2 separate regions of the Homo sapiens genome follow, and region 2 is linked to region 1. The links come from fine-mapping of genetic effects on gene expression. A gene starts in region 1. The other region holds a variant in brackets. All regions are shown on one strand. Distances are between the middles of the regions.

What was found. PIP is the estimated chance that this variant, and not a neighbour inherited with it, causes the effect.
Region 2: its variant is fine-mapped to the expression of PRUNE2 in T cells (TOPMed, PIP 0.95).

What each region holds. Positions count from the first base shown.
Region 1 is chr9:76,904,629-76,907,542 of GRCh38, forward strand. PRUNE2 (prune homolog 2 with BCH domain) reads right to left here and starts at 1,486. Exons shown (of 19, transcript NM_015225.3): 1 at 1,300-1,486. The coding sequence starts at 1,335. RefSeq lists a silencer at 1,556-1,615.
Region 2 is chr9:76,700,746-76,703,659 of GRCh38, forward strand. It overlaps PRUNE2 (prune homolog 2 with BCH domain), which reads right to left. Exons shown (of 19, transcript NM_015225.3): 9 at 2,592-2,914. Among named protein-coding and RNA genes, the nearest start is that of PCA3, 62 kb to the right of the region's middle. The variant C/T (reference allele first, on the strand shown) is at 1,280.

The DNA.
Region 1 (2,914 bases):
TCCATGTGCTCTAGTAAAACTATAAAAGGGTCAATAAACACAGAGATGATCACAAACTTCCTCAACTCGGAAATCTCCACAAACGTTCAACTCTCTGGGAGGTTTCAGGTAGAAAGTTTTATATAAGCACTTATCAACTTTAATGGTCTTTTACAAGATAGTTACAGTTAGACCATTGTAAGGATCACACTTCCGTCTGCACTCTGAATGGTGGTTCAGGCATCTTTGGGCCCTCCCTTCCTGCACTCCCTTTGTTGTGCGAGGGTAAATGAGTTACAGTAATAACCCTGCAAATATCCTGCCTTGTGATTAAAACATTACCTTAATGCAGACTTTACATTTTGGCTTCTATGAAGGCTTAAAGGTTAAAGGCATCATAAATTATGCATTTCTTTCTATGCCAGGCCTGTAAAAGGTGCTTTTACAGTTCTTTAAAGATATTGCTTCTAAATGAGTACAGGCTTTTCTTTTTTTTTCTGCCAAAACAGAAACATTTCCATTATGTTTATTACTGCTGTGCTGGAGAGCCAAAACAGTTTGGAATTAAGAAACTGCTAGAGTCTGTTGTTTCAGAATGTGTAGCAACTGTTAACATACACAGTGGAGTTGCCCATTCACTGTTTGGACAGTGATATGGTAAACATGGGCTAACACACAGGTCTGCTCCCGGGAGAACGATGATCTGGTAAACTCCAGAACACCAACAGTTAGAGCTTTCCCCTTCTGCCTCCGCCCCAATTTACAGATGTGAACAGGAATTAGCGAGACACAAGACACACTAGAATATCCCTAACTCCTGCAGTGGAGCAAGCTCTATTCTGTGGATTCTCCAGTACCACACATGTCCTTGCTACCCAGCACCCTGACTTCCTCACTTTTGTCACCTCCAGCTGAAGTACAGTTCTAAGGGTCTCTTTTTTTCCTTTTACACTTACACGTAATGCATCTGCAGAAGGCTGGGCTCTTTATCTCAAGGAAGACCACACCCATTTATCCCTTAGCTTTCAGGAGCAAACTGCTGATTTAGGGACCGAAGCTGGACTGAAGCGACCCAACTTCAGCCAGGCCACAACCTCCTTCAGCTCTGCACCTCGTCTGGTTGCGGTGGAGGATTCTGGAGACAGATTGCCAGCTTTAAGAGCCAGAGTTCCTGAGATTTCTTCCAGGAGACAACCCGCACACCCTGATAACTCCGTGGCAAAGTTGTTTCTTCCTCCTCTGCTGCAACACCTTTTCCTCTCCACCTTTCCATTAGCATACGCGCGCGCGCACACACACAGCTTTGCTCACTCAACTTACCAGTTTAGATTTGGCGCGTTGCAAAAATTCTTCCATGTCGTGGCTAGGGGTTTGGAACCCGGGTACTCGGAGGGGCGCAGTGGAAAATCTCGGCCCAAGGAAGACGAGCGGGGTCCCGGGAAAGTGGCCCGCCGGGGCGCAGCGACCGACTGCTCCCTCCTGCCGCTCTGAGGCGGCTGCGGCGGAGGCTGTGCTTGCGCCCTCGACCGTCTCGCCCAGGGCTCCCCGCCCCACCCCTCGCCCGGCCGCCGGCTCTGGGCACCCGACTCTGCCCTAATAAGGAAAGTGGGTGTGCCGCCCAGGAGCCCCGGGGCGCGCCGGGCACGCTCTCTGGCACGCGCCTCGGGCGCCGTGGCGCGTGGGCGGAGGTGCAGGGGTATGGCGAGGGGCTCCTCCGCCAATCGCAGGGCCGTGCTGCGGCCTCCTGACGTGGCGCGCCGAAAGCTGCTGCAACCATGGACAGCGCCCAGAAGTGCGAGCCAAGTGCAAGGGGCTGCTGCAGAGGGAGGCTCTGCCGCAGGCACCGCCGCGGTCAGCGGGGGAAGGTGGGAAGAGGGAGACGGGTCCCAGGAGAGCCCCCGCCTCGCCCAGCGCCTCACTGGCTGGCTGGCGCGTTACGGAGCACTCCGGCGGTCACTTAATGATCTGGTCGGCTGGCCTGGCCGGGGGAGGCACTCAGCTAGATTGGCGTGGGAGGGACGAGGAGAGAAAGAGGGGAGTTACTGCTGAGCTAAAAGCAGTACGACCTTGATGGATAATAATCAGAAGAGCAGGCTAGGAGGTTGGGCGAGGCTGCGTCTTTCCTCCCTACCATGAAAACATGTCCACACAACAATGGGCATCCACAGTTCACCCCAACTAGGTGCCCTTATGTCAGCCCTGGGACTAATGCATAGATACATCCTTCTGCAGTTCCCATCCACTGACATGTACCCTCAGGGAAAGCTGGGGCAATAGAACCTTGCTAAGGTGAGGTGCAGTCTGCAGACCGGCAACATCAGCATCGCTGATCTTATAGAAATGCAGAACCTCAGTCCCCTGCTCCTACTTACCAAATCAGAATCTGTGTGTTTCTATGAGACCCTCAGATGATTTCTATGCTTGTTAAAGTTTAAGAAGTACTACAATGAACAAATGAACTTATATCTACAAACCTTATTTTAAATCATGGGGTTTTGTTGTATGTAGCCTTGTCCGGTCCCCAAACACACTACATCAGGCTTTCTCTGACCTCTGGGCTTTTGCACACCACCTGTAAGATCCTTCCAGCCCTTGTCCTAGCCCCCAGCCTCAGCTGTTCTACAGAAGTAGCCTCAACCCTGACTGCACAGTAAAATCACATCGTAATCACCTGAGACTTGAGAAAGTACTGATACCAGGGCTTTATCCCAGTCCAATTAAATTAATATCTCTGGGCATGGGGCCACAGCATTTCTGTGGAAAGTGACCCAAGTGATTCTAATGTGCAGTTCAGGTGTGATGCTCTGATTCTCGATGAACTTTACATGTATCTAAATCACTTAGAGGGCTTGATGAAACACAGATTTCCGTGCCCCATCCTTAGAATTTTAGCCCTAATAGGTGTGGCTTAATGGGCCTGAGAATGTCCATGTAT
Region 2 (2,914 bases), 200 kb before region 1:
GTGTCTGACAGAGAATAAGCCATTCCTGCTGCCTGCTCCATAAAGGCGCCCGAAACAGATATCTCTCCTCTTATTTCCTCACTTGTATAATTCTTGTCTCGCAGGGTTGCCCTATGTAAAGTGAAATAGCGCAGAGTGCTTAACACCTGGTCCAACAGCAAATAGCCTGTAGTTAGTACCCATTTTATACTTAAACTGACATTGGGCATTGACTAGCTTGACTTAAATATTACACTGCTATCTACCTTTTTACTTATGTCTAACTCTTTAGTTAAACTGTAAACTCCTAGACGGCTGACAGTATGTTTTAAACCAGTGGTTCTCAAGCTTTGGAGGGCATCAGGAGTTGCTGAAGCTCAGCTGGCTGGGCCTCACCCCCAGAGTTCCTGATTCCGGAGGTCTGAGTCGGAGCCGATAATTTGCATTTCTAACAAGTACTCAGGTGATACTGATGCTGCTGTTCTTAGGACCCCACTTAGAGAACCACAGTTTTAGACAACTCTTTATTCTCCCAAAATCTAGCACAGAGGGAGACTTACACATTCACAGTAAATTATTTATGCAAAAGATAATACACATGCCGGAGGGAAAATCTGCCCCATCCCCATTGTGAGAAAAGTTTCAGTACTACAAAAGCTGAGCAGAAAGGGATGAGCAAAGAAATCTTGTTGAAAGAAAAGGTGCTGGTGGCACAATTGAACACTGACTGTCATCTGTTGGATCTCGGGGCATGTGCAAAATGCACACAAGAAGCCAAACAATAGCTCAGCCAACTCATGGCTGCCTGAGTTCTGAGCTCAATCTATAACAATGCCAGCAGGGCTGCTGGGATCCATCTGCTACTCTCTTTCTGATAACGGATCTGGGGTCTCTCTGGAAGAAAATAGCTTGACAGGAAGAAAGAAGGATTAGGCCAGCTGACAATGTCTGGATTTATGAAGCTGCCCTGGAATATGGTAGAGCTTTTAACCCCTTCTGCACTTGGCTAATCCTCAACATACCCCAGCTATTCTTTCCATTGTCCTTGTTCCTTTCATCAAGAAATGTAATTTGTGAATGCCAAAGCTCCCCTGGACACATTCTGTTTCCACACAAATTAAGTTCCCAGAATTTAATACTGCAGGAAGCCTTGAGATCTTTCAGCCCAACTCACTAATTTTACGCATGAGAAAACCTAAGCCTGGGATTAATCCTAAAATGTATAATCAGTCATGGTAGAGGCAGGCTGGAATCCAGATTCCTTGACTCACTGTGGGTATGTGATGTGTATAGTCCTTTA[C/T]ACTCCCAAGCTGAGTAGCAAAAATATATCTTTTCTCGCTTTTTTTTTTTTTTGAGACGGAGTCTGGCTCTGTCACTCAGGCTGGAGTGCAGTCACACGATCTCGGCTCACTGCAACCTCCACCTCCCAGGTTCAAGCAATTCTCCTGTCTCAGCCTCCCAAGTAGCTGGGATTACAGGTGCTGCCACCACCCCAGCTAAGTTTTGAATTTTTAGTAGAGACGGGGTTTCACCATGTTAGCCAGGGTGGTTTCAAACTCCTGACCTCAAGTGATCCACTCACCTTGGGCTCCCAAGGTGTTGGGATTACAGGTATGAACCACCGCACCTGGCCGATATCTTTTCTCTATTACATTTTAAGGAGAAAACATGACTTTCCCCGTTACTTAAGTTACTTTTCACAATTTGTTCTTTTGTCCCTGGAAGCAGGTGGGCTTCATAAACACAAATGAAGAGAAATGAAGAATGCTAAACAGTTTCAGCAGAGACTGGAAGCTTGAGGGCAGTGATGACATCCTATTCCCTGATATATGCCCATTGGCTACCCAGAACCACGGCACAGAGCAAGCTCTCAAAAACCACATGGTGAATGAATGAATGAATGAATCACTGATTTAATGACAGTTTGCCAATTTCTCTGCCAATTAGGGAATGAATGTGTTACACTGAGATTTGGAGACTGCTGTGGAGCCTGTCTCTTATCTAACTATAAGTTAGGTGCTTACATAAAACCAGAAAATGCCTTGTATTTGAAAATATGAAAATGCCTCTGTATGCTAAGCGGTGTGTCAACTGAGAAAGTACAGGCTTTGGAGGTGGCAAGCTTCGAATCCCAGGTGTTCACTCTGGTTACTTAATTCTAGGCAAATTATAGAAAATTTCTGAGCCTTGAATCCCCCTACTCAACCCTACTCCTTCCATTCCCCCCACTGGCATGTTAGGATTAAATGAGATAATGTATGCAAACTGCCTTGCACATAGTAGGTGCTGATTAAATGTTAGTGTCACTTCCTTGTATTCCCAACTGCCTGTTGAAGAGTCATGTAGGTATTCAAGTAGGTGGGGTGGCAGTTGGGGGGTAGGTATAAGACTGAATGAAAATTGAAGGGGCTTTTTGGCTGAAAATGTACATAAATTATCATTATGGTTATAGTTATCTAGTAGCTGCTTTTACTGATGGTGTGCCTTGCATTCAATATAAGCAAAGCTGCTATCATCCAGGTATTCCTCATATTCCATAACCTCTAACCATTTCCCAGGTTTCTAAATAAATTGCTTTTCAGGAAAAAAAATAAATCTAGCTTTTTGCTTACCCATTTGGTCTTGATATCCTGGTTCCGAGCTCAAGGAACTCTGTCTCCTCCTCCATTTCCGTGTCAGGGATCATGTTTTTCTGAACAGGCTGTGGTGAAAGCATTTCCCATTCATTGTCATGGGTGACAGCCTGCAACGTAACTGCATCCGGGCCAGCCCTGCCTCGGCTCTTACTCTTCTGTGATTGGCTGACTGGACCAGAGGCTTCCTCTAGTGCCAAAGATTCTAGAGGCTTCATTTCTTCCAGAATCTGCAGCTGGGGACCCTCACCCAAGCCGAGTTCAGAGAACGGCTCCACAGTCTTGCCAGACCACCCAGGCCC